Homo sapiens: one gene and its partners. The protein of the gene in region 1 purifies or fractionates together with the protein of each later gene. This does not show direct contact. Each region holds a gene or a part of one and is shown on either strand. Other genes may lie near its edges. The genes, in order: MTMR11, CAD, MTMR2, DNAJA3, MTM1, AIFM1 and TUBB6.

Region 1 (3,975 bases):
GGCTTCTGGGCCACCTTCTTAGCAGGTGTATACCTCTTTGTTCCAGACTGACTTTCTGTCTCACAATATCTTCACTATTTCCACAGTTGCAGCCAAGACAGGAAACTGAAAGCTGAGGCCAGAAGGGTGGTGTACTGGGGGGAGGGGAAAATTGAGTGTCACTTTGGAAAACTGGGGCCCCCATCTAAGGATTGCTGCCTCTGTAGATTCAAAAGCAATAAAACAGCAGCTCATTAACTCTTATTTTGTATTTTATTTTCTGTCTTTTTCATGTCTAAATAAAGATTTTTGCTTTGCTGTCCCCAAGTCCCCCTCCTTTAAAGGAGCTGCAGCTCCTTCTCTCCTTGTTCCCAGCTTTCCTTACCCATCTTTGCTTCTAGGGTTGCAGATGGGAGGGACGGGGGATGGACTGCTGAGCTGAAGAGAGGTTTCCAGCCCTCACCTGTGAAAGTCCTGAACATGAATCATTCATTTGGAGATCTGGTGTCTGGGTTGGAGGGGTGGAGTCACATACGGGAATGGGCACTTATTGCCTATTGGTTGTGTATCTACGTGATGGGCAAGATTAACTGGTAAGATCTTTTTGTCCCACCCACATCCCCAAGACTTGCACACAAACTGTACTTGTGTCTGCATCTTGGACACATTTCCATCTCTTTTTATACTTCTCCACTGCAGTCTTCACATGATGTCTGTGTCATGCCCTCTAGAGAAAGATATGCAAAACCACTTTAACCAGTTTCCCTGCTTCCTCACCTAATTCTTGGGCCTCTGCTGACAAAAATCCCCCCAGGTCTAATTTTCATTTTCTTCTGGAAGAGGCGGCAAGGAGGCTTGAACCACTTTCACATTCCTACCCCTCTCCCCGCCCCAAACCCCTTTGAGAAGACAAAAGAACGGAGCTTTTAAGGGAAGTCATCACTGAGACACTCCAGACAGGTAGCCCAGATGATTCCAGCTTCATAATCAATAGAACTGCTCCCCTCAAACGGTCTCCAGTACTCATGAACAGGAAGAGAACAGGGTCTGGGATTGGGGTAAAGAAGGGAGTCGTTTTTCTCTCAGTCCCCATTTCTTCCCCACCCGTCCGTCTCAGACTCCACCGTTTCCTCTCCACTTTTCCAGAATTGTGTGTATTCTCCTTTAAGGGGTTGGGCATCTCTCCCGCCCTCTCCAGAGTCGACTGAAGTTTCCGAGGAGACTTCTCAGGCTGGGCTGGACACACCTTTCCAAGGACCCCCAAACTCTGCTCCGTGCACGTCAAATGCTCCTTTCCCTTGTGTCCAACCCCCTACCCCTCTCCCTAACACCCCTCTTCTCAACAAGACTCAGCCTCTCCCCGAGGTGGGTGAGCATCCTTGAGGTTTCCCACCCTTAACTGCTGTGTCCCCGGATGGAGCCAGAGAAATGTGGTGGGGGGGCCGGGGCCAGAGTTTCAACATTGCCCCCCAGAAGGAGGAGCCAGAGATGGGGGTAAGGAGAAGGAATTTGGGGGGTGTCGGCAAGAGGGTGAGAACGGGGATGAGGTGGAGATAAAAGGGGGAAGCAAAGGCTCTAGAGGAGGAGGAGGAGGGTGTGTCTGTCTATCAGCTTCTGCTGATGGAGCCTGGTCCGTCTTTCTCAGTCTCAAGTTCGTTGTCTCATTATCCATTAACCAGCCCCTCCCTTTACTGTTTACCAGCCCTGTTAGGTCTGGAGCTCCCCACAGACACTGATCTCAGTTTCCCCCGAGAGTGTGAGTGTAGGCCTCTACAGGCAGCTGCCTCTGGGGAGTTGGGGAGCCTAGGGGTTAACTCTAGACCCCCCTCAACCCTCTGGACCAAAGTCTGTCCAGGAAAATAGGATGCCGGAGCCCAGGAGTCGTCAGCCTAGCAGTTGCCTGGCCTCCAGATGCCTCCCAGGTAATAATGCCCTATCACTCTCCAAAGACTTCCAAATTTCATCCTACGCCAATCTTGTTTCATGCCCTCACCAAAGATACCCCTGTGTTCCTCTCGTGGCTCGAAGTACGTCTGCCTGAGGCTCGCTGTCCTCCCTGACAGCCTCTAGAGCTGGCTGAGAGCTGGACCTTGACATTCCTTCTGTTTCCTTGACCCTGTTACCCCTTTTCAAATTTACTTATTCGATACATAGTTAGTGCCTGCTATGTGCCAGGCCTTGTTCTAGGCTCTGTTCTAGTTACAGAAATTAAAAAACATTTATCTTTCCTCATAAGCTTACATTGTAGTGGGCTTTGGGGAGGATTTTAATCTTCCCTATTTAGATCTCCCTTTCTTGGAGGGGTGGGTGTATCCAAGTGTGGGCAACACTGGGAACAGTCATAACAGGGCTTCCCTTCTTCCCCTTTAGGGGAGCAGATCCTAGCATGGGCCCCAGGGGTGAGGAAGGGCCTGGAACCAGAATTGTCTGGAACCCTGATCTGTACCAACTTTAGGGTCACCTTCCAGCCCTGTGGATGGCAGTGGAATCAGGTGAGATGGTTGGGGCCACAGAAATGACAGCTAGTGGGAAATGGGTAGGGGAGTCTAGCAGGATTTAGACAAACATTATGGGTTAAGGGCTGTCTTTTGAATGTATCATTGATAATCAGTGGGAACTCTCTCTAGGGTTGTTGCCCCCTAGAAGGGGTTGGGGCTGCCAGGGTAGGAAAATGAGGGCGATTTCAGATGTCTACCCAGTCACGTGTTTCGTCTAGGACACTCCCTTGAACAGTGAATACGATTTTGCCCTGGTCAACATTGGACGATTAGAGGCTGGTAAGTTGGGGGGGGGTTTGGTGAAGGGGTTCACTGGGGTTGTTGGAACTCCCTCCTCATCCTTCCTCTGTTCTCAGAAAACAGCAGGGATGGAGTGGGATGGGCTGCAAGAGTCCCTTCTGGAGAGACTCTGGTCCATGGTTACACTGTTCTGTACCTCTTGACTTCAGTGAGCGGCTTGTCCCGAGTCCAGCTCCTCCGTCCAGGGTCCCTGCATAAATTTATCCCTGAGGAGATTCTGATTCATGGCCGAGACTTCCGGCTGCTCAGAGTTGGTTTTGAGGCTGGAGGCCTAGAGCCTCAGGCTTTTCAGGTAAGAGGCCCCTAACCTGAGGCTTTCTCCTCACCTCAGAACCTTGGGATCCTCTCCCTGACAATTTCTGAGACTCCTCCAGCCCCTGGGATCCTCTCATCATTCCCCCTGCTTCTCTCAAGGAAAGGCTAAAAGGCTGGGATAAATGATTGCGTGATGAGAGTAAAGAGCCTGCGCTCTAGCCTTACTCTATTAATTACCAGCAGTGTGACTGTGGGCAAGTTTCCTCCTCTGAAAAACCAGGATTCCTCCCAGAATCATCATTCTAGGATTCTGTGGTTCCAGATTTGTTCTCCCGACCCCAGTCCCCATGACCTGAGGAAGCCCCCTTCTCTAGGGACTGTCTTCACTGTTCTTCTTCATTCTTGGCAAAGAGAGTGGAGCAACACATGGGCTCCATTTCCTTCTTTTCACTTACTCAGCCTAAGCCAAAAGGATGGAATGTCCTTTCCTCTGCAGGTGACCATGGCCATTGTCCAAGCCAGAGCTCAGAGCAATCAAGCCCAACAGTATTCGGGGATAACCCTGAGCAAGGCTGGTGAGTGAGAGTGCTTTAGGGTAAGGAAGAGTCTGAAAAAGCAGAGGATGGCTGATGACAAAGAGCTGAGAAGCTGTCTCTGATTTTCTCCTTCCTCCTCTATGTCTCACTCCTGTTCTAGGCCAGGGTTCTGGCTCCAGAAAACCACCAATTCCTCTCATGGAGACAGCGGAAGACTGGGAGACTGAGCGGAAGAAGCAGGCAGCCAGAGGCTGGAGGGTCAGCACGGTCAACGAGAGGTTCGACGTAGCCACCAGGTGATCCCCCAGTGCACCCCAACCCTGCTGCTCTCCCAATCTTCCCTTAGTTCCTTGATCCTCTAAAGCTAGGACTTCCCACAAACTCCAGCCTCCTAGGACACCCACAAA
Region 2 (3,500 bases), on another chromosome or scaffold:
ACTGGCAGCCTCGAGGTGGGTAGTGGGACAGGGGACTCGGATCCACTGCCGTGCTTTACTTTTCCATCATCAAGGCCCACAGGGCTTCAAATTTTCACAGACCCAGTCAACCAGGCTCACCTGAAGAAAGGCAAGCTGTTGTGCACAATGCCTTCATTGGAACCATCATTGGCGTTGGTGAAGAGAGGAGCCCAGTCTGCTGGCAGTGAGTCTGTCTCCACAGCAAACCCATGGTTCTGGGATGTCAGAAAGCAGCGCCCAGAGCCCACCAACAAGCAGGGCTGGTTATGGCCTCGGTTCCCATATCTGGAGGTAGAAGCATGCCGAGTCACAGGCCCTGCTCACCCTCTCTTCACTACTGAACCTACCCCAGCTCTCACCGATCTCCTGTTCTCAGTAGCCTCACTCCTGTTTCCTTTTTGTTTTTTTTTTTTTTTTGAGACGGAGTCTCCCTCTGTTTCCCGGGCTGGAGGGCAATGGCACGATCTCCGCTCACTGCAACCTCCACCTCCCAGGTTCAAGCGATTCTCCTGCCTCAGCCTCTGGAGTAGCTGGGATTACAGGCGCACGCCACCATGGCTGGCCAACTTTTGTATTTTTAGTAGAGACAGAGTTTCACCATGTTGGCCAGGCTGGTCTCGAACTCCTGACCTCCAGTGATCCGCCCACCTTGGCCTCCCAAAGTGCTGGGATTACAGGTGGGAGCCACCTCACCTGCAACCCCCCCGCTCCTATTTCAACACGAATAAACACCAACTCTCTTCTCATTCCTGAGACACCCCACCCCTCATGCCACAAGTATGGGCCCCTTCTGCTCCCCACAAGTCCCACCTCATCTTGTAAGTCTTGGCCCCAATGGCTAAGGCCAATAGCTGGTGTCCCAGGCAGATCCCAAAGACAGGTCGGGGATTAGGCTCAGATAAAACACGGCTCAGTGTGGATACGACACTGGGATAGGAGGCAGGGTCACCAGGCCCATTACTTAAGAAGAGACCCTCATACTCTGGAGTGGGCAGAAAAGATGACATCAAAATCAGTATTTCAATTACAGGAGACACACCTGCAGCCCCCCCAGCCCATGAGAGTGTTAAGTCCCAATGTCTATCTTCTTCACTGCAACTCCTACTGACTTTTAGCAATTGGACCAAGGGATAGATCTTCCACCCAAGCTGCTTGTCTGAGGCCCTGAACAGGCCCCAGCTACTCACCTTGGCTGTCTAGTGCATGGTCCCAGGGTACCACAGTGACCTCAGCCCCACGCTGGCAGAGGCATCGGATCTGATTATACTTGAGGCCACAGTCCAAAGCAAGGATCCGAGGGGCACCCCCTGTATTGAATACCCGTGGAGTCTGAGAAATAGACGAATAAAGGGCAACAGTTGGCAGCTGTGCTCAGTGGGTATAAGATATGCCTGCACCAACTCCTACCTTCAAAGCCTCCTTTGATTCTCTCCTGTGTTCACCCCCCAATTGTGGGCAGAATATAACTACTGTGCTAGAGCTTGCAACACTCTCCCACTCTACCTCTGTACCTTAATGGAGACCTCTGGTACCAGGGGGCGGGCATTGGGGTCCAAGAATGGCAGGGATGAAGGTTCTGTTCCATTCTGGACCAGCTTCCCCAGCAGAGACCCCTGTTCCCGCAACTTCTTGGTCAGCTCCCGAGTGTCTACTCCTGTCAAAATAGCACAGTCTTAGGGATCACATTCCTACAACTCAGTCATCTGTGAGGTTAGACTTCCAGAAGCACTTCCATTCCAGAGCCCCAGTCACACACAGCTGTTCTATGTGCATCAAAATCCTGGGCCATTGTGACAGAAGTATACTACCATGAAGTATTCCTGCCAAAAATATCACATCTGAATTGAACAACTCTAAATCTATCCATTTATAGAAAATAATATAAAGGGAAAAAAAGAATACGCTAAGTAACACTACAGGAGTGTAACCAAGTAAGTGCAGACTATGGGATACTAGATACAGGAAAAATGACCTGTTTTCAAATAGGTTACAAGGTCCACAGATTAAGAGACTTATCAACCAAATGCAATGTGTGAACCCTGTTTAGAGCAAGATTCAAATGAACAGAAAAAAAAAAAAAAAAAAAAAAAAAAATTGGGAAATTTTAAACATTGCCTGGACACTTGTATTAGGGAATTATTAATTTTTTTAGTGTATGACGTTATTATGATCATGTTTTTTAAAGATTCCTTTTGCATAGATATTGAACTATTTGTAGATGAAATGATATGATGTCTGAGATTTGCATCAAAATAATCCAGTGGTGGTGATGAAATAAGATTAGCCCTAAGCTGATGATTATGGAAGGTGGGAGTTCCTTCCTGTGTTGGAAATTTTCTTTCTGAGTGATAGTTCAATTCTTTCTCCCAGCCCAACTCCAATCTAAACCTTCCAACTATCACAATCTTAGAGTCAGGTCCCAGCAGATTACAGAAACCTTGATTCTTTCCATCCAGGCATGCTGTGCTCTGCCCAAATATGCCCCTGCTTGCCACCATACCTTGCAAGCCAGGGATGCCATGCTGCTGCAGCCACTCATGCAGGGTGCGGGTGGCACTCCAGTGGCTGGGAGTAGGACAGCACTCTCCCACTACCAGTGCTGCTACGTGGATGCCCGAGGATTCAAACCACTGTAGATGGAAAGAGATTGTGAGAAGCCTCAGGCCAAGTTATTTCTTTGCAGCATTTTCCCGATTGTGTGGCCACAGACCCTATATTCAGCCACATTGAATGGCCTTCAATATACCAAACTTTTGGTGCTTTTGCATAGGTATTTCCATTTACCAACAACGCTCTCTCCTATACGAAACACAACCCACAGGCCCAGGGTGCCCCGATGATCACTGAAAATGACATTTTCCTTTTTATTTATTTATTATTTATTTTTTTTGAGACAGAGTCTCACTCTGTCACCCAGGCTGCAATGCAGTGGCGACATCTAAGCTCACTGCAACCTCTGCCTCCCGGATTCAAGCAATTCTCTTGCTTTAGCCTCCCGAGTAGCTGGGACTACAGGCGCCCGCCACCACACCCGGCTAATTTTTTGTATTTTTAGTAGAGACGGGGTTTCACCATGTTAGCCAGGATGGTCTCAGATCTCCTGACCTTGTGATCTGCCCACCTCAGCCTCCCAAAGTGCTGGGATTACAGGAGTGAGCCATCGCACCTAGCCATTCCTTTTTTTTTTTTTTGAGACAGGGTCTTGCTGTTATCCAGGCTGGAGTGCAGAGTACAGTGGCACAAATACACGGTTCACTACAGCCTCAATCTCCTGGGCTCAAGTGATTCTCCCACCTCAGACTCCTGAGTAGTTGGGACCACAGGTGTGGATCATCACACCTGGCTAATTTTTTGAATTTTTTGTAGTGACAGCGTCTCACCATGTTGCCAGGCTGCTCTCAAACTTCCTGGGCTCAAGCGATCCCCCCACCTCAGCCTTCCAAAGTGCTGGGATTACAAGTCATGAGCTACCGCGCCCC
Region 3 (3,500 bases), on another chromosome or scaffold:
AAGTGAAATGATATAAACGTGGGAGTCTAACACTGTCTAAAGCACATAGTGGGAACTCAGGGTTTGCCTACCCTTACCTCCCTCCCAAATTGCTAGTGTTAACTGGCTCCCAATTAAAAAGGAGATTACAAATCCTAATGAAGACAACAGGTAACTTTTCATCATGGAAACACCCTGAATAGCAAGATCATATAATCATAAAATGTTAGTGCTGGAATGGACCTCAGAAATCAGCTAGTCCAGCTTCCTTTATTTCATACCTAAAGAAATTGATCTAAGAGACTAAGTTACACTTACACTATACATCTGGTTAAATGTCAAAGCAGGGATGTAAATGTAGAGATTCTAGACAGCCTAGACAAGTTTCTTTATACGACATCAATAATTATAGCACAAATTTTCCAAAGACAGGAAACATTTTACCAGGTTATTAGAGACAGGAAATGCATATTTCATTAGATTCTCAAATATGGATCTTCTTGTCCGCCCCTCAGGTTTATGAGCAAATCGTAAATTCCTAATATCCTAGAAAAGATTTAGGAACCAAGTTAATAATTGTTCACTACTTACTTAAATGAATAAATAAGGTTACTTGGAACTATCTTGTAAAATGTTAAGATCTGTGAATGTGGGATACAAAAATAAATCAGACATCAGCTCCTGGAGACAGGGAAATTATAATGGTTTATTGGGAAAAACTGAAAGAAACACAAGGTACTCTACTATGAAGCAGAATTCAGAGGGCAGGAAATTTACCTATGCTTATGGACTCAAAATAGGCCAGTGAAAGAGGTAGTATTTGATGTAACCACTGGAGATTAACGATATTACATCTGAAGATTAATATCATGACTGATACAAACTATCAGCATATGTGCTTTCCCTGTGAAAGCCCATTTTCTGTCATAAATTTCTTTATTTATAAAACCTGATTAGTAGTTGTTACATTTCATACGTGTCTTCAGTTCATTATATCTGGTGATTATTTTCCTACTAACTATCCCTTCCCAGGGTTCATTTGCATTGGACCTTCTCTTCCTAAGTCCCCTGCTACTAGTAGACTTGATAGAACTAAACCCTGCCTGAAAGTGTTCCTTCCTTCACTCCATAACCACATTCTTCCACCATCTACTGACACATAACTCTGAATAGTTTAGTTTATATTATCCAGGCTCTACAGTAAGGTCTAAAGACCAAGTTTCCCTTCCATTTGTCCCTAAGCAGTTTTCTATGCTCAGACTGAATGCAGTTATTCATGTTCCGGTTTACTGGTATCTTAACAGCACTTAGAAAAAAACTGGGGATTAAGATAATTTCAAGGGCCAGGCACAGTGGCTCATGCCTGTTATTCCAACACTTTGGGTGGACAAAGCAAGAGGGACACTTGAGGTGTTCTACTTCTAAAACAGTGGTGGGGAAAAATTGGTATTGTAGACTTTTCCTATGTTCTTATCTACCGACATTCTTTAAATGCATTGATTGATACTTGAATGAAACATGAATTGTTACAAGTTCAAGGCCAGCCTGGGCAACATAGTGAGACCTTGTCTCTACAAAAAATTTTTTAAAAAAAATTTATAAGAAAAGAATAATTTTAAGACTGATCATTTTATTTAAATGTTTTTACCTAGGCAGAATTCAAAATAGCTTTATTATGCCTCATTTTGTAGAACCACACACAAAGCCTCTCCACTACAGTGTACCCACAATACATAAGTAAGACAGTATATGATCCAAAACTAGAATGCTGGCTTTACTATCTTTTAAAATAAACATGTGCGGGAACCTAAGCTGATATCTTGTTTTCCCTCAGTAAATATCTTTATAACTAGGTGAGATACTCAGAATCATTCTGTTAACCACAGAGTTCTCTGAAAGTACCATGTCAGGGGCCCTACAAATATTTTTGTTTATTGATAACGATCCTGTTCCATGGAAAGAAATTATATTTAAAATGATTAAGATTCAAAATTATCTTCTTTCACATCGTCTTATATTCTATGCACTACTTACTCTTAAACTACAGAAAAGTGATCAGGAAACAGTGTGCTTGACACATGGTTGCCAGCGATTACACTCACAGAGCCCTTCTGACTATAATGGAAAACCACAGGCCAGGCACAGTGGCTCACACCTGTAATCTCAACACTTTGGGAGGCCAAGGCGGGCAGATCACTTGAGGCCAGGAGTTCAACACCAACCTGGCCAATGTGGTGAAACCCATCTCTACCAAAAATACAAAAATTAGCCAGGCATGGTGGCATATGCCTGTAATCCCAGCTACTGAGGAGGCTGAGGTAGGAGAATCACTTGAACCCGGGAGGCAGAGGCTGCAGTAAGCCAAGATCACGCCACTGCACTCCAGCCTAAGCAACAGAGCCAGACTCTTGTCTCAAAAAAAAAGAAAACTACAAAAATAATTACTAAGTCATTAGCTTTAATACCAGAGTCACAAAACTTCTAAGATTAGCATAACAAAGTATCTTGAATTATACACATGCTGTTTCTTTTGGCACTGGCAGAATAAAAAGAAAGGAACAATGTGATGTAGAATCTCAATGTGCATGGGTGTTAGTTAATTAGGCCTTAATAACAGTGACCTGGAGAAGTGGTACGTAGAATTAAATACCTATGACTTAATGGTAAAAATGTAACAATCTATGTTTCATTCAAGTATCAACGCATTTAAAGAATGCCAGTAAATAAGAACATAAGAAAAGTCTACAATATCAACTTTTCCACACTATTGTTTTAGAAGTAGAAAAACTGGCCGGGCACGGTGGCTCACGCCTGTAATCCCAGCACTTTGAGAGGCCGAGATGGGCAGATCACGAGGTCAGGAGATTGGGACCATCCTGGCTAACATGGTGAAACCCCATCTCTACTAAAAATACAAAAAAAAATTAGCTGGGCGTGGTGGTGGGCGCCTGTAGTCCCAGCTACTCGAGAGGCTGAGGCAGGAGAATCCCGTGAACCCAGGAGACGGAGCTTGCAGTGAGCTGAGATTGTGCCAGCCTGGGCAACAGAGCGAGACTCCGTCTCAAAAAAAAAAAAAAAGAAAAATTATGAGAACTAGAAACAGAAAAGATAGGTGATGATGAATATAACATATTTAGTTATTTAGTTCTTCCACTACGAAGTAGTGGAACTGCTCAGAGCCTTATGTTGCTAATTTGTAAATTAAAGGTAGTAATGTCTATTGTGCCTACCTCACAGGATTTTTATAAGGCTCAAAGTGAAATCATCAATGTGGAACTATGTGGTATCCTATCAGTACTATGTGCATTAAAGATGGTTATTATTATTATTATTATTATTATTATTATTATTATTTCAGACAGAGTCTTACTCTGTTGCCCAAGCTGGAGTGCAGTGGCACTATCTTGGCTCACTGCAACATCCGCCTCCCAGGTTCAAGCAATTCTCCTGCCTCAGCCTCCCCAATAGCTGAGATTACAGGTGCCCGCCACCACGCCTGGTTAATTTTTGTATTTTTAGTA
Region 4 (3,500 bases), on another chromosome or scaffold:
GCACCTGGGTTCCTAGGCAGTGTGTTTGAGTGCACATGCACATAAAAAACAAGCCTTAAAGAGACATTTTTCTTACGCACATTGTGGTCCCAGAACCACCCATCAGTTTACCTGCGTACTTAGGTTACCATTTTTCTTGTTTTTATCAGGAAACCATCAACACAGGCCCTTTTGTGATGCGTTCCACGTGTAGGAGATGTGGTGGCCGCGGCTCCATCATCATATCGCCCTGTGTGGTCTGCAGGGGAGCAGGACAAGCCAAGCAGAAAAAGCGAGTGATGATCCCTGTGCCTGCAGGTGGGTGCTTGGGCCCGCCATGTCCAGGAGCTTGGAGAGGGCAGACAGGGTTGAGGCTACCACACCGTGTGGAGAGGGTGGACAGGGCCGAGGCCACTGCACTGAGTGTGAGTGGGCTCTTGGTAGAAGTTATGGTTGAGGCCCTGGAGCCCCAGGCTGGAGGAGGAACTGGAGTCTCCTTGAATCTTTCTGTTTCTGCCAGTTATCCTTAAAATTTACACTTTGCATGTCACAATGGGGAGAAGAGACCTGACGTGCCTACTCTGCTTCTTCCTGGTGAGGGAGCAGCTTCCAACCCCCGGGCTCCTCTCCTCTCTCCCCTGTCTTAGTCACCGAAGCCATCATTGTCCCTGCTGCCACCCTATCTACATCAGCCCCACGGATCCCACCCCTCACTCCATGTCTACTGTTCCCTTGCCCAAAACTCACTTTCTGCTTTCTTTTTTCGGTTAACTTTATTCATCTTGGAGATCCCAGCTTGAGTATCCCTTCCCTAGCTAGCCTCACACCCTCCTCCCTGTTCTTTTTTTTTTCTTTTTTGAGACGGAGTCTCGCTCTGTCACCCAGGCTGGAGCGCAGTGGCCCGATCTCGGCCCACTGCAAGCTCTGCCTCCCAGGCTCATGCCATTCTCCTGCCTCAGCCTCCCAAGGAGCTGGGACTACAGGCACCTGCCACCACACCCAGCTAATTTTTTGTATTTTTAGTAGAGACGGGGTTTCATCGTGTTAGCCAGGATGGTCTCGATCTCCTGACCTCGTGATCCACCCGCCTCGGCTTCCCAAAGTGCTGAGATTATAGTCATGAGCCACCGCGCGTGGCCTGCTTTACTGTTGTTTAGATGTCTGTTTCTCTAGAGTTGTGAGCATTTCCATTGAAGAGCATGTCTCTGTTTGTAGTTATGCATTAGTGCTATCGTTTGGTTAACACCCATCACCCCAGTGAGACCATGAACTCCCTGAGGTACTGCCTAGACCAAGCCTGAGGCAGGTGCTCAGTCATCAGGTGTCTGTGTTGCATCTCTGGAAGGTTACCCATGTGCCTCTTAGATAATGACATTGTTCCTCGTTAATAAGAAACAGGAGTGGGGAAGAAGCTGTGGGTTACAAGTGGATCTTGGGTGGAAAGTGCTGTGGGAGGTCTCACAATAACTGCTCCCTTTCTTTTTTTTCTTTTTCTTTTCTTTTTTTTTTTTTTTTTAAGACGGAGTCTCGCTCTGTTGCCAGGCTGGCGTGTAGTGGAGTGATCTCGGCTCACTGCAACCTCCGCCTCCTGGGTTCAAGCGATTCTCTTTCCTCAGCCTCCTGAGTAGCTGGGACTACAGGCGTGTGCCACCACGCCCAGTTAATTTTTAGTAGAGACCAGGTTTCACCATGTTGGCCAGGATGGTCTCGATCTCTTGACGTCATGATCTGCCCGCCTCGGCCTCCCAAAGTGCTGGGATTACAGGCGTGAGCCACCGCGTCCTGCCTAACTTCTCCCTTTCTAATGTCCCTTGTAGGAGTCGAGGATGGCCAGACCGTGAGGATGCCTGTGGGAAAAAGGGAAATTTTCATTACGTTCAGGGTAGGTGCCCTGCCCCGCACAGCTTCTGTTGGGCCTTTCCTCTCTTCGGGTGGGTGTGGCTGAGGCTGCTCCCATGTAATCAAAGCTTCACAGGAACATGTCTCGCCATTCATGTTTCTGAGGGGCACAGTGGCCACCTAGATGTGGTTTTTAGCTGTTTGTTACCTTCAAGATTCTGTGCCTTGTGTGGAGAGAAGACAACTTCTTCAACATGCTAACAAGTTAGAAATACAGGTCACATAAAAATACAGGAAACATCTTGTGTTTTTATGATAAGATTGTTGATGAGGCAGTGAGTGTGAAAGTTACAATTTTACATACTGTATACAGGGGCAAACCTTGGTTTTCTGAGATGGTGGAAACATTAATGAAGACAATGCCTTCTACTGGCAATTGCCCTCCTATGTGTACACCTGAGAAAAACCCACACAAGCCTAGCAGGCGATAGGTACAAAGGGGTGCACAAGAGTCCTGTCCATGGTAGCAAGACACTGCCTTCCTCCAACAAGAGAATGGCTCAGTGAGCCGTGGTGGTCAGAGGCTGCTGCAGGGCAGTCGGAAGGAAAGAATGAGAGCTGAACTCAAGGGATGCTCCAGGCGTTGCAGGTACAGACAGCAGGGATGGAAGGCAGCTTGCCAGTGGCTGTAGGGCCTCAGAGACCATCTGTGTAAAGTTTTAAAACCTGTGAGATGGCATTATGTATTATTTAGGGACACGGAAATACATAGTAAGTAGAAGCTTGTAGGAATGATAAATGTTAAAGTCAGGGTTGTGGTTAGCTGAGGAGGGCAAGACTCACCGGTGTTTATGATGTTTTATTTTATTTTACTTTATTTTTTGAGGTGGGGTATTGCTTTGTTGCCTAGGATGAAATGCAGTGGGGCAGTCTTGGCTCACTGTAGCCTCAGACTCCCTGGGCTCAGGTGATCCTCCCACCTCAGCCTCCTGAGTAGCTGGGACTACAGGCACACGCCACCAGGCCCGGCTGACTTTTGTATCTTTAGTAAAGATGAGGTTTCACCATGTTGCCCAGGGTGGTCTCAAACCCCAGGGCTCAAATGATCCACCCACCTTGGCCTCCCAAAGTGCTGGGATTACAGGTATGAGCCACTGCGCCCGGCCTGTGATATTTTGTTACCTCCACTGGGTTGTGGGTATGACATGCTTGTTATATTATTTACTCTTCCCTTTTTTTTCTTTTTTTTTTCTGGAAAGAGAGTCTTGCTCTGTTGCCCAGTCTGGAGTGCAGTGGCATGATCTCAGCTCACTGCAACCTCCACCTCCCAGGTTCAAGCGATTCTCTTGCCTCAGCCTCCTGAGTAGCTGGGACTACAGGCATGCGCCACTACACCCAGGTAATTTTTGTATTTTTAGTAGAGATGGGGTTTCACCATGTTGGCAGGCTGGTCTCGAATTCCTGACCTCAGGTGATCCACCCACCTTAGCCTTCCAAAGTGCTGGGATTACAAGCGTGAGCCACCACGGCTGGCCTATACTTTCTAATAAAGTAAGATTTTTTTTTTTTTTTTTTTGAGGTGGAGTCTCGCTCTGTTGCTCAGGCTGGAGTGCAGTGGTGTGATCTCTGTTCAGTGCAAACTTCATCTCCCAGGTTCAAGTGGATCTTCTGCCTCAGCCTCC
Region 5 (4,214 bases), on another chromosome or scaffold:
AAAAAGAGGCACACTGGGAGAAGTGGCTAAAGAGTGGGTTGGGTTGGATTCTGGATGGCTTTGTTACTCTTCTAAGAAGTCTAGACTCTTCAATAAAGCATATATATATGCATATATAAATGATATATGAATATATGTGTATATGTGTGTGACTATGTAGAAACACACGTACACATATACACTGGTATCAGGTAAAATGCTGTTTTTAGATGCTGGAGAACTAACACATACAAGAGAAAAAAAACAGGTCATGATAAAGTCATCCTATTTACTCGAACTGCTCGCGTATAAGTATTATGCAGTACAAAGAATATTATGCTCATTTTTCTATGTGCCAGGTTGTCTTTTCTTTTTTTAATTTTTTTGACACGCAGTCTCGCTTTGTCACACAGGCTGGAGTGCAGTGGTGCCATCTCAGCTCACTGCAACCTCTCCCTCCCGGGTTCAAGCGATTCTCTTGCCTCAGCTTCCCGAGCAGCTGGTATTACAGACACCTGCCACCACGCCTGGATAATTTTTGTATTTTTAGTAGAGACGAGGTTTCACCATGTCGTCCAGGCTGGTCTCGAACTCCTGACCTCAGGTGATCCGCCTGCGTTGGCCTCCCAAAGTGCTAGGATTACAGGCGTGAGCCACCGCGCCCGGCCCAGATTGTTTGTTTTATTTGATTACACAATGAATTCTCTTCTTGAAGTTTGCCTTTCTTCTCTTTTTCCTGTCCCTTTCTTTTTACTGTATCAATAGTTGTCTGACCCAAACCTCAACAAGTAGAAGGAATTTTGGACTGAAATGTTTCCGTTCACTAAGTCTCAATTGCGTTCTTGGAAAGGTGCTGGCACAGCTGAGGGACACCCCAGCTGTTAGTTGAGTTTGTGAATTGCAGATCCTGCCCCAGAGTCAGTGAAATTTCTTTTTCCCTTATACTATCTCAACTTTACGCAGCCAACCCTGTGTACCCAATAATAGCTCAATTTAGTGGCATCCGCTAAAGTCTTGTATAGAGAAGTTTTCCCTCTGGATTTCCCCTTTACTGAAGAAAAATGGGGAGACCCAGACAAGGGTCCCGGGACTACGCTTCCCAGCCGCCTCCGCCCGGCGCCCAGTCCAACTTCCCTTACAGGGATGGCCCCTGGCATCTTGGCCCCGCCCATCCCCAGCACCATATTGCGAACTACAATTCCCAGCTGCCTCCATGCGTCGGACCCTTCAAAATGGGCTTCCCAGCAGCCTCTCGGGCGAAGAGCCCCGCCCTTCGGAGCTGCTCCCCAGGTCGACCCGGCGCACTCTTCCTGCCCCCTGCCCCGTCACGTGATGCAGTCCCGCCAACCGGCACGGGGAGGCGGGCAGCGGGCGGTGGCCGGGGGCGGGCAGGCCGTGGGGGGCGGACCCCAGAGGGGGCGGAGCAGGGCCCGGCAGCCGAGCAGCCTGGCAACGGCGGTGGCGCCCGGAGCCCGAGGTGGGTGCGCGCTCACGGCTGGCCTGGCTCGGAGCCGGGCACTGCGGGGACCCGTGGTGAGGGGATCGGGAGGAGGAAGTTGGGACTCCTTGGGCCAGCGGGTCGCGCGGGGCCTTGCCGCACCGTCAGGGTTGGGTGGGGGTTTCGTCCAAGCGCCGTCGCTGTCCCCGCGGGGCAGGGCTGAGGCCAGGGAGCAGCAGGCAGGTACCTCCGGCTTCCTCCCGTTCTCCCCGCCCAAGGTGGCCGGCCGGCGGCGGGCGAAGGTCGGGACGGGGGTAGGGGTTGGCTGGCCGTGGAGCTGGGGGCGGACGTCTCAGCCACTGCCTGGACTTTGCTTCCCCGTCCCGGGGCGGTGAGTGGGCCGGGCGTCCGCCCTGCCTCCCCGGCGACGCTCCGCGGCTGGTCCTCGCCTTGGCCCTCCGCACGGAGCGGGCGTCCGTCGCATCCCCGGTGGGCCCTGCGGAGCGGCCGCAGCCCGGCACTGGCCGCGAAGCCTCGATGGCCGCTCTCGGCCAGTGTTTCTGTGTCATACACGAGAGGTTTATCTGCTTTTGCAACAGTTGAGGGAAGATCTTAGAGGGAACGGTTAGTTCCCTGATACGCAGTCGGAAGTATGTACAGGCACGAGCAAGCGCCCGTGGCCGGGTTGCCTCCCTTAACTGTCTTTTGCTGCGCTCAGGAAGTGAAAACTAATTTTAGTATTTGCCTAAGCAAGTAAGAAGTGAATCTGCTGCAAAAATTATATTAGAGCTTTATAGACGCACGCATCGTTTGAGGCGAAGTGGGTTGCGACTGGTTTTGAAACAGATACACCAGATCTTCACAAGAATAAAATTATAGCATTTTAGAATTGACTGGCATCCTGAAGTTTACATTGTTCATTTGTTTCCTGGATGGGGGAACTGAGGCCCAGAGAGGGTAACTAATATGTCCCGGGCTTCAGGGCAACTTAATGGCAAAGCTAATATCACAAGCCAGCTCTTTGGGGGTATCTTGGTGTCTGTCTAGTCTGGATTCTTTTTACCACAGCTCAGTATTATTCCTTGTGAAATAAGCACCTTAGAGTCTTGAGACTGAGCCAGCAATTTTGCTAGACTGCAAACCATTTTGAATTTCCTTCAAAATCGGTTTACCAACCAAATAAGACAATCAGGCCTGTTACTTTGCAGACACGTTTGCCTTCATCCAACATATATATTGGGCACGATCATGTATTCACCAGATTTGATTCTGAATGGCTTTTGGCTGCTTCACAAAATCAAATCTACTTTTCAGAGATTCCACACCATGGGGGAGATTTGAACCAGTGGTGCTGCCTGCAGCACCAGTGTATAGTACCCTCCCGGGTGCTTGAGGGTGGATAACATTCACGGGGGGCTTGTAGATTCTAGTGTAGTTAGTAAATGATTGGTCTCTTTAACTTAAAGTTCTAACTACATTTATTAAGTTGTCGATGGTTTCATTCATTCATCAAACACAAGAATGCCAACGGTGGGCACTGGGAAGACAGCAAAGAGCCCCACTGCTGAGGTCCCTGCCTTATAGAGTTTATATGTGGGGAGGCACACAATAAAAAAATAAACAATGATATATTTTCTGGCAGAGATGAGCGCTATGAGAAAAAATAGAGCTCTGAAACCTTACAATGACAGTGAAACAGGCTGGCATGATTGAGAATGACTTGGGCATTACTTTGAATTTCTAGTTTTAGATTGCCAGCTGCTGCTCCAGTAAAGGAAATAAATCCAAAAGTAAATCTCTGAATCAAAGAGATTTTTTGGAGTCATCATTTCTCCAATGAGTGTCTTTTAGATGGTAAGCTCATCCCAGCCTCATTTTTACTCACATTTCCCCCCACCCCGACATGCAAACAGTAAGTGATTTCAAATACCTAGAGAGGTATTTTTCAAATCCTTTGCTGTTTTCATAGTTAGATAGCTGACTGTAGCTACAGAAAGCTCTGCTGAGGTCAATATTGGTTGTTGATTTCATGCCGGTGTCTGCTGGACTCTCAGGCTACCTTGCACAAGGGTTTCTCTTCCTGTGCAATGGTTTGTACTGTGAACCTCTTATCTGAAATGATCATCAGTCCTTGTGTGGTTTGTAAAGAAACTAGTTCATTTTGAAATAGCTCAAGAGAAAAGAAGCACTCATTCTTAGGAACAAGAGTGCTCGCTAATAAAATGGCATTAATGAGAGTTGACTGTAAAAGTTCATCTGTTTAATACCTTCTAAGTTCTCTCATATTCTGTATGTTCAATGGCTTCAAAGCAAAATTTTAAACTTTTACAGGTCTGAAAAATAATTAAAGTTACAAAAAATACTTTAATATTTTTTGTTCCAAAATGAGAGGCAGATTAACAAAATGTAGTTACTTAGAAACCACTGAAAACACATGGTTCTTGCTCTTATTGAGGGCTCCAAAATAAAGAGAAAAGTGGAGACTCTCAACGATTAATAGGTGACATTTTAAAGGGGTAACCAGAGGATTTCAAAGGCTGGAGTTTCTCATTTCTAAAGTTTATTCGATTTTGTAACAGAATAATAGATTGTTTTCATTATTCTTTAGTAATTTTCCTTTCCTGTTTTCGACCTCTTTGAAGTTCTGCTTTCATTATTTTCTAGTTTTCTAGTTCTTTATTTCCTTTTTGGCAGATGTGGGGGATAGGGACCGTCATTTGCCTAGAAGATTTTGACTCTGGATTGGGCAGCCTGCCCCAATTTGAATCCTGGACCTAATATTATCTGTGTGACTTTA
Region 6 (4,266 bases), on another chromosome or scaffold:
GAACACCCTCCTGAGATTTGTAGATGAGGAAAATGAGGCACAATTAAGTGACTTGCCCAGGTGGCAGAGCCAGGATTCAATGTGGGTTGGTCTGGATCCAAGGTCAACATGTTTAACAATGAAAAATGTTATCTTTGGTCCGAAAGTATTCACCATCTGAAATATCAATCCTTTTCCTCTACTGTTTGAATTTTACTACTCATCCTTCAAGACACAACTCAAATAACTTCTTACACGAAGTTCTACCATAGTGATTCCATCCCATAGTCTTCTCTCTTGCTCTGTCCGGCACTACACCAGATATTATTTCAATGACCGGTATATGTCATCTCCCCAACTAGACAGTGGCCACTTCCTATATAGATGCTATGTCCAAATAAACCCATTGTAAACTGAAAATATCGTTAAGTCGAAACTGCATTTAATACCCTGATAAACCCATCATAAAGTCAAAAAACCGTAAGTTGAACCATGCTTAAGTCCAGATGCTCCTCGACTGACATGGGGTTAGGTCTCATTAAACCCATCATAAAGTCGAAAAATTGTAAGTCGAACCATTGTGAGGGGTAAGTCGGGGACCATCCGTACTTTTCATACCCAACAGAGCCCCTTTTATAGTACAATCCAAGAGGTAAGTGCTCAATAAATACTTGTTAAATGAATATGTAAGCTGAATCTTTGAAACAGGCACATTGTATGTTCTGCATGCAGCCAAAACATTATTTCCAATTTAGCTTATATCTGGCAGAGTCAAAACACTTATTTACACTCAGCCCCTCACCCTACTCCCATAACTGAAAGTTCTGCTTAGCAGACTTCTCTTCCCAGAAAGTCCGAGAAGCACGAACGCTTTTTGCTAACATCCTGCTCCCAAGCACAGAAACCACAGCAGGAGACTGTGTGTATCTGTAGCACCTGGTATACAGCATCTAGGACACACAACTGAACTAATAAATAAAGGTGACAGGCGGGAAGAAGAGCGCAGAATTACTTGTCCAGGAAACGGGTTGGGTGGGAAAGAGCCGGCAACTGGTAAAAGATGGAAGTACACGCCGGATCTGGGAAGCCAGGTTCCGCGCCTCGGACTCATGGAAAAACTGGATCTGGATCACTGCAAAAGAATCAGGAAGGCTTCGGTATCAAGTAACTGGTGTCCTAAAACCAAAAAACAAAGTGCGATGCCGGGGCTACGCTGTTGTGAGATGCTGTTATCAGTTCTCGTCACCAACACAGCGGCAGCACCAGGCACAACCGCCAATCAAAGCGGCCCCACGAGTCCCTCCTTGAACAGGTTCCTTAACTCGTTCAGTCCAACACTGTGCCACAAACTCGCGAAAACCGGCTACCTAGAGCCAGCGTCTTTGCGAGCTTGCGGCCAGCTAGTGCATGCGCAAATCCTCTCGCCGTGCGGACCAATCGCAATGCGGCAGCGAGTGCTACGCCTGCGCAGTAGGCCTCCGGTCGCCGTTCCCCTTCCCCGGCTCTAGCAGGCCGGCTTCTCTGTCCAATGCCCACCCGGAGCTGGGAGGAGGAGTCTGCGTAATGTGCGTGTGAAGAGACTGGGGGAGCTGGCCGGGGCTCACGGTGTTTGACCCGTCGGTCGTGCGTGAGAGGAAAGGGAAGGAGGAGGTCCCGAATAGCGGTCGCCGAAATGTTCCGGTGTGGAGGCCTGGCGGCGGGTGCTTTGAAGCAGAAGCTGGTGCCCTTGGTGCGGACCGTGTGCGTCCGAAGCCCGAGGCAGAGGAACCGGCTCCCAGGTGACTGACCCATTCCAGGCAACCTCCAAGTCCGAGGGCCTGGCGCCTTAGGCTCCCTGTGCCTTGCAGCCCTCTACCCCCGCGTCCCCGCGAGAAACTTAACACATAGTCACGTGAATTCCAAATTGGCAGACTCCGAACCCTGAGTCTTGCAAGCGGAGGAATTGGCTCAGCCATGCCGACCTGACCTTCAAGAGATTTGAACCCAGTAGTCGGCTTGAGGCCTTTTCCCGGGAGCGTTTGCTGTTCAGGGATCCCAGAACAACTGGCTGTCGGCGCCTCCCCGGCATCCCCACCCCCCACCCCCCTTTTTAGAGCAATGAGGTCAAGTAGACTTTGTCATTTACCGATTGAGACTTTAAACAGGACGTTTAAGCCCTACGCCTAAGTTTCTTGTGTAAATGAGGGTGTTATCTGCTCAGCCTTCCAAACCACAGATGAGATCCATGGATTTGAATGCCCAGTGAAACAGAAACGGTGCAGGGCAAGTAAGGAGTCGGTTGGTTGTGTACCAGACACCCAGAGAATTGGCCCAGACTTAATTGGAGATGCCTGAGCCGTGTACTTCTTGGTGGTCTTTAAGGCTTCAAAGAAACAGTTTGCAGAACGCATTGTATTTTGTTCTCCATTAAGTTGTTTCATCAAATTTTAGAGCTGGAAGGGATTTTGTGGTAAAGGTCAACCCACTCATTTTATAGATAATAAACTGAGGCACAGAGAGGTGAAATTACTTGCCAAAGGTCACATAGTTAATTAATAGGTAGAGCTAAGGATAGTTTGCTAGCCTCCAGGTCCTTAATCCCTTCGCTGCAACTCCATACTGCTTCCTAAAGTTGACCTCAAAAAGTTAAGAATGAATTCGGGTCTCTTCCCAGTAATTAGCCCATTGTACATCAGATATCCGTGAATTTATCTGAGCATGGCTTGAGCCTGCTTCTTTTCGTACTGCGTTACTTCATGGGGGCAATGAATGATCCACCTGTAGGAGTTGCTTTGAAAAAAAAATCAGTAATCCTTCAATGTCCACCCCTAGGGCATTTGCAATGTCAGAAGTTATCCTTGAGGCTTTTACAATACAGAAACACCTGGGTGCTTTAAAAATAAAAAGTGGAAAATATTTTCCTTGGGTTGTTAGGGTCTTTGCAAATGTGCATTTGAACAGTTTTTCCAGTTGCTATGCACAATGAAAATGTTTCCTGATAGGTGTATTTGAGTTATGTCCTGGGACATACTGCTCTTGGAACTTAAAACCTCTGCTTAGCTTTTAAACTAATGCCTTATCAATGGATGTCATCTTTGAGGGTTTTGTGTATTGAAATGATGGTGCTCTGTGCTTGTTGCACAGAAATTGAGATAACCTGAATTTTTTTTTTTTTTTTTTTTGAGACGGAGTCTCGCTTTGTCGCCCAGGCTGGAGTGCAGTGGCGCGATCTCGGCTCACTGCAATCTCCGCCTCCCGGATTCACGCCATTCTTCTGCCTCAGCCTCCAGAGTAGCTGGGACTACAGGCACCCGCCACCACGCCCGGCTAATTTTTTTTTTTTTTTTTTTGTATTTTTAGTAGAGACAAGGTTTCACCATGTTAACCAGGATGGTCTCGATCTCCTGACCTCGTGATCCGCCCACCTCGGCCTCCCAAAGCGCTGGGATTACAGGCGTGAGCCACCGCGCCCGGCGATAACCTGAATTTTTTCATCCACACTGGCCTTTCAAACTTTGAGTAGTTGTTTTGCTTAAGTCTCACAACTTTTACCAGCATTCTAAAGTCTGACCAAAAGTTCTCATCAATTAAATATGCATTTGCAAAGTTAAGTTGATTTATTAGACATTGGAAAGTGGTTGGTGTTGTTAGAACTACTGAAAAATACAGACTCAAATGGTTTTTTCCACTGCATGTCTTTGTTTGAAGGCAGTCTACTGTAGAATATATTCGGACTTCCTGACATATCCATCCATCTCTTTGCATACACTTGTTCTTTGTCCTTTGGCCGTGCACCAAAGTATGACATCATCTGCCTTTAAAAATGGGTGAGGGTAGTGTTAAATTTTCAAAAAGAAGTTCTGATACTCTCATTTTAGGAATTAACTCTGTTTTGTGGCTTGATTCCTAACTGCTTTTAATCTGATTTCTTTTTCATGTAGTAGCATCTACCGTGTGTTTTTGCACAGGTGGGAAAGAGCAAGGTTCGTTTATACACCATTTCTCCCTCCACCTTACCTTTAAACTTTTTTTTTTTTTTTTTTTTGAGGCGGAGTCTCGCTCAGTTTCCCAGAGTGCAGTGGCACGATCTTGGCTCACTGCAACCTCTGCCTGCTGGGTTCAAGCAATTCTCCTGCGTCAGCCTCCCAAGTAGCTGGGACTACAGGCATGCACCACCACGCCGGGCTAATTTTTTGTATTTTTAGTAGAGACGGGGTTTCACCATGCTGGCCAGGCTGGTCTCAAACTCCTGACCTTGTGATCCACCTGCTTCAGCCTCCCAAACCTTTAAACTTTAAACCTGCCTTG
Region 7 (3,500 bases), on another chromosome or scaffold:
AAATCTGCAGCCCAAAATTTCATGAAAATAAATATTTAAAACATTTTATTAAAAATTAAATTGACAAAGTCATATTAGAAATTAGTATTTCAATTTTCCCAACTCTAAGTATACTGGAATAAATTGCCTTAAAGTGAAAGAGTGAGAGTGTATTTAGTAAGTCTTGGTTAAGCCTTTTTGGTTTACATTCAGAAACAAGAAAAGAATGACTGATGTAAAATGTCATGACCTGCAAGTTAGGTCGTTTCCAATTCTGCTTTCTTCAACATTGAGTTGTTGGCCAGGTGCGGTGGCTCATGCCTGTAATCCCAGCACTTTGGGAGGCCGAGGTGGGCGGATCACTTGAGGTCAGGAGTTCAAGACCAGCCTGGCCAACGTGGTGAAACCCTCTCTCTACTAAAAAATACAAAAATTAGCCGGGTGTGGTGGCAGCACCTGTAATCCCAGCTTCTCGGGGGGCTGAAGCAGAATTGCTTGAACCCAGGAGGTGGAGGTTGCAGTGAGACAATACCGTGCCACTGCACTTTAGCCTGGGCAACAGAGTGAGACTCCATCTCAAAATAAATAAATAAATAAATAAACAAAATTGAGTTAAGTGACAGATGATTGAAAATACTTTTTTTTTTTTTTTTGAGACAGGGTCTTGCTCTGTCACCCAGGCTGGAGTGCTGTAGCACAATCTTGGCTCACTGCAACCTCCATCTTCTACGCTTAAGTGATCCTCCCACCTCAGCCTCCCGAGTAGCTGGGACTACAGGCATGCACTACCAGACCCAGCTAATTTTTGTATTTTTAGTAGAGATGGGGTTTTGCCATGTTGCCCAGGCTTGAAAATACTTTTTGATAATAGCTCACTATTTGATTTTTGGGATGTAACTCTGAAGACAATCAAAGAACTGAATGACATTGTAGAACATAATTCATTCCCATTTACATATATCTGTGGACAAGATTTCTCATATATGTAAAAATTAAGAGGAATAGAATTGATCCCAAGCCTTGGCCCTTTCTGGCAGTATTTAATATTCACCCTTGGATAAATGAATTAATAGGAAAAAAATAGATATAGATAGGTAGATAGATAACATTTAATACTTTGTAATCACAGGAAATTAAAAAGAATCAACTTCAACTGATTGGAATTATTTCTGATTTTTAATATATTCTATCAATACATTTAACAGAAGAAGAGTTTTTTAAAGTGATTATATTGTTTCCAGAAATTAAAATTATATCATATGCAACTATTTGACTTATGAAAAATAATAGATGTTAACTTTAAAATAAATGAGAGGTATCTAGTATCTAGTTTTTTCAAATGTTCATTAGCCAAGTGTAGTGGCATGTGCCTGTAGTCCCTGCTACTCAAGAGGTTGAAGTGGGAGAATCACTTAAGCCCAGGAGTTCAAAGCTGCAGTCAGCTAGGGTGGTGCCAGTGTACGCCACCCTGGGTGACAGAGCGAGACCTTGTCTCTAAATAAATAAATACAGATGTTCACAGCAATGTATGAAAGCCATTGCATTATATGAAACTCGTAGTGCCCAGAAAACCAAAAACAAAAATTAGTTCCTCCCACTCCTACGTGCATCTGTTCATATGGACATACAAACCTGTGTAATTTTTACAGCTGGGAAAAAAATGCTTCTGCTAGTGAAATAATCCATTTTAAAATGAGATAAAATGAAAAATAGGATTTTAAATTTAAGAGCCAATCTTTCAGATTCAATTTTTTTTAGGTAAAGTAAGATATACATAAGCCTGTCTGGCAAAAATGCACCATTATGGGGCTGGCCCGGTGGCTCACACCTGTAATCCCAGCACTTTGGGAGGCCGAAGTGGGTGGATCACGAAGTCAGGAGATTGAGACCATCCTGGCTAACATGGTGAAACCCCATCTCTACTAAAAAATACAAAAAATTAGCCAGGCGTGGTGGTGGGTGCCTGTAGTCACAGCTACTTGGGAGGCTGAGGCAGGAGAATGGTGTGAACCCGGGAGGCGGAGCTTGCAGTGAGCCGAGATCGCACCACTGCACCTCCAGCCTGGGTGGCAGAGCAAGACTCCGTCTCAAAAAAAAAAAGCACCATTATGCAGAAAACAGACTAGGTCTCTTTCTTGTTACTTGAACTCTGCATAAAATACAGAAGTCTTTCAGACATATTAAGCTCCTTTTCTCAACTGGCCTGGAAACAATTTGAGGGCAGGAATTACTTCCTGTGCTTAGTATTTAATTATAGGGGCAGAATAAATAATTGGTTCTGCAAACATTTTGCAACAGTAATTCTGGATGATGAATGAGGGGCTCCATTAACATGAAAAAGTGTCAAGTTTTAAAAATAAAATACTTGGGCCGGGCGCCGTGGCTCACGCCTGTAATCCCAGCACTTTGGGAGGCCGAGGCGGGCGGATCACAAGGTCAGGAGTTCGAGACTATCCTGGCTAACACGGTGAAACCCCGTCTCTACTAAAAATACAAAAATATTAGCCAGGAGTGGTGGCAGGCGCCTGTAGTCCCGGCTACACGGGAGGCTGAGGCAGGAGAATGGCGTGAACCCAGGAGGCGGAGCTTGCAATGAGCCGAGATTGCGCCACTGCACTCCAGCCTGGGCGACAGAGTGAGACTGCGTCTCCAAAAAAAAGAAAGAAAGAAAAGAAAATACTTATACATAGTACAGTATAAGATTCAGAAAGCCCAAAGGAGAGAACTTTTTTTTTTTTTTTGAGCTGTAGTCCCATTCTGACGCCCAAGCTGGAGTGCAGTGGCACCATCTCAGCACACTAGAACCTCCACCTCCCAGGTCCCAGGTTCAAGCAATTCTCCTGCCTCAGCCTCCCAAGTAGCTGGGACTACAGGCTCCCCACCACCACGCCCGGCTGATTTTTGTATTTTCAGTAGAGATGGGGTTTCCTCATGTTGCCCAGGCTGGTCTCTAACTCCTGACTTCAAGTGATCCACCCGCCTCGGCCTCCCAAAGTGCTGGGATTACAGGCATGAGCCACGGCGCCCGGCCAGTAACTTATTTTTTTAATGTATACCTTTTGTTCCCTTTGAATTCTACCATGTGCAAGAATTACCTCTTTAACATGGAACAACCAGGTCAAAATGTATATACATCTTTAAAATTGACCAGTAGCTACTTTGACTTGCCTAAAAACGTACCAGTGCATCTGCTCAGCTGCACCGTTGGTGGGTGCCTGTTTCCCCGGCCCCTCCCTTTGGCTAACAGCACATCATGGAATCACTTCACACCCTCCTTGTCGGTGACCAAGCATGGTGATGGCGCAGCCCTTTCCTGTTTAAACGGCACGGGACTCTCTTTGTTGCAGGCCAGACGGGTGCAGGGAACAACTGGGCGAAAGGGCACTACACGGAGGGCGCGGAGCTGGTGGACGCAGTGCTGGACGTGGTGCGGAAGGAGTGCGAGCACTGCGACTGCCTGCAGGGCTTCCAGCTCACGCACTCGCTGGGCGGCGGCACGGGCTCAGGCATGGGCACGCTGC

The links.
Region 2: the proteins of MTMR11 (region 1) and CAD purify together in Homo sapiens (affinity purification with mass spectrometry; one large-scale study listed by BioGRID and IntAct). This does not show direct contact.
Region 3: the proteins of MTMR11 (region 1) and MTMR2 purify together in Homo sapiens (affinity purification with mass spectrometry; 2 studies listed by BioGRID and IntAct, with this or other methods). This does not show direct contact.
Region 4: the proteins of MTMR11 (region 1) and DNAJA3 purify together in Homo sapiens (affinity purification with mass spectrometry; one large-scale study listed by BioGRID and IntAct). This does not show direct contact.
Region 5: the proteins of MTMR11 (region 1) and MTM1 purify together in Homo sapiens (affinity purification with mass spectrometry; 2 studies listed by BioGRID and IntAct, with this or other methods). This does not show direct contact.
Region 6: the proteins of MTMR11 (region 1) and AIFM1 purify together in Homo sapiens (affinity purification with mass spectrometry; one large-scale study listed by BioGRID and IntAct). This does not show direct contact.
Region 7: the proteins of MTMR11 (region 1) and TUBB6 purify together in Homo sapiens (affinity purification with mass spectrometry; one large-scale study listed by BioGRID and IntAct). This does not show direct contact.

The regions. Positions count from the first base shown.
Region 1 is NC_000001.11:149,934,080-149,938,054, reverse strand, and holds the start of MTMR11 (myotubularin-related protein 11), read left to right. Parts: upstream 1-1,175; 5' UTR 1,176-1,393; coding exon of another isoform or gene 1,394-1,407; coding exon 1,408-1,473; exon of another isoform or gene 1,474-1,825; coding exon 1,826-1,901; intron 1,902-2,349; coding exon 2,350-2,471; intron 2,472-2,695; coding exon 2,696-2,756; intron 2,757-2,926; coding exon 2,927-3,069; intron 3,070-3,528; coding exon 3,529-3,607; intron 3,608-3,728; coding exon 3,729-3,864; intron 3,865-3,975.
Region 2 is NC_000002.12:27,220,369-27,223,868, reverse strand, and holds part of CAD (multifunctional protein CAD), read right to left. Parts: intron 2,652-3,500; coding exon 2,522-2,651; intron 1,676-2,521; coding exon 1,533-1,675; intron 1,351-1,532; coding exon 1,209-1,350; intron 1,004-1,208; coding exon 832-1,003; intron 307-831; coding exon 121-306; intron 1-120. UniProt on the Homo sapiens protein: Multifunctional protein that encodes the first 3 enzymatic activities of the de novo pyrimidine pathway: carbamoylphosphate synthetase (CPSase; EC 6.3.5.5), aspartate transcarbamylase (ATCase; EC 2.1.3.2) and dihydroorotase (DHOase; EC 3.5.2.3).
Region 3 is NC_000011.10:95,858,108-95,861,607, forward strand, and holds part of MTMR2 (phosphatidylinositol-3,5-bisphosphate 3-phosphatase MTMR2), read right to left. Parts: intron 526-3,500; coding exon 424-525; intron 1-423. UniProt on the Homo sapiens protein: Lipid phosphatase that specifically dephosphorylates the D-3 position of phosphatidylinositol 3-phosphate and phosphatidylinositol 3,5-bisphosphate, generating phosphatidylinositol and phosphatidylinositol 5-phosphate.
Region 4 is NC_000016.10:4,442,868-4,446,367, forward strand, and holds part of DNAJA3 (dnaJ homolog subfamily A member 3, mitochondrial), read left to right. Parts: intron 1-149; coding exon 150-297; intron 298-1,796; coding exon 1,797-1,861; intron 1,862-3,500. UniProt on the Homo sapiens protein: Modulates apoptotic signal transduction or effector structures within the mitochondrial matrix. Affect cytochrome C release from the mitochondria and caspase 3 activation, but not caspase 8 activation.
Region 5 is NC_000023.11:150,567,207-150,571,420, forward strand, and holds the start of MTM1 (myotubularin), read left to right. Parts: upstream 1-1,414; 5' UTR 1,415-1,456; exon of another isoform or gene 1,457-1,512; intron 1,513-4,214. UniProt on the Homo sapiens protein: Lipid phosphatase which dephosphorylates phosphatidylinositol 3-monophosphate (PI3P) and phosphatidylinositol 3,5-bisphosphate (PI(3,5)P2). Has also been shown to dephosphorylate phosphotyrosine- and phosphoserine-containing peptides.
Region 6 is NC_000023.11:130,163,042-130,167,307, reverse strand, and holds the start of AIFM1 (apoptosis-inducing factor 1, mitochondrial isoform AIF precursor), read left to right. Parts: upstream 1-1,466; 5' UTR 1,467-1,651; coding exon 1,652-1,757; intron 1,758-4,266. UniProt on the Homo sapiens protein: Functions both as NADH oxidoreductase and as regulator of apoptosis.
Region 7 is NC_000018.10:12,321,741-12,325,240, forward strand, and holds part of TUBB6 (tubulin beta-6 chain), read left to right. Parts: intron 1-3,068; exon of another isoform or gene 3,069-3,326; coding exon 3,327-3,500. UniProt on the Homo sapiens protein: Tubulin is the major constituent of microtubules, a cylinder consisting of laterally associated linear protofilaments composed of alpha- and beta-tubulin heterodimers.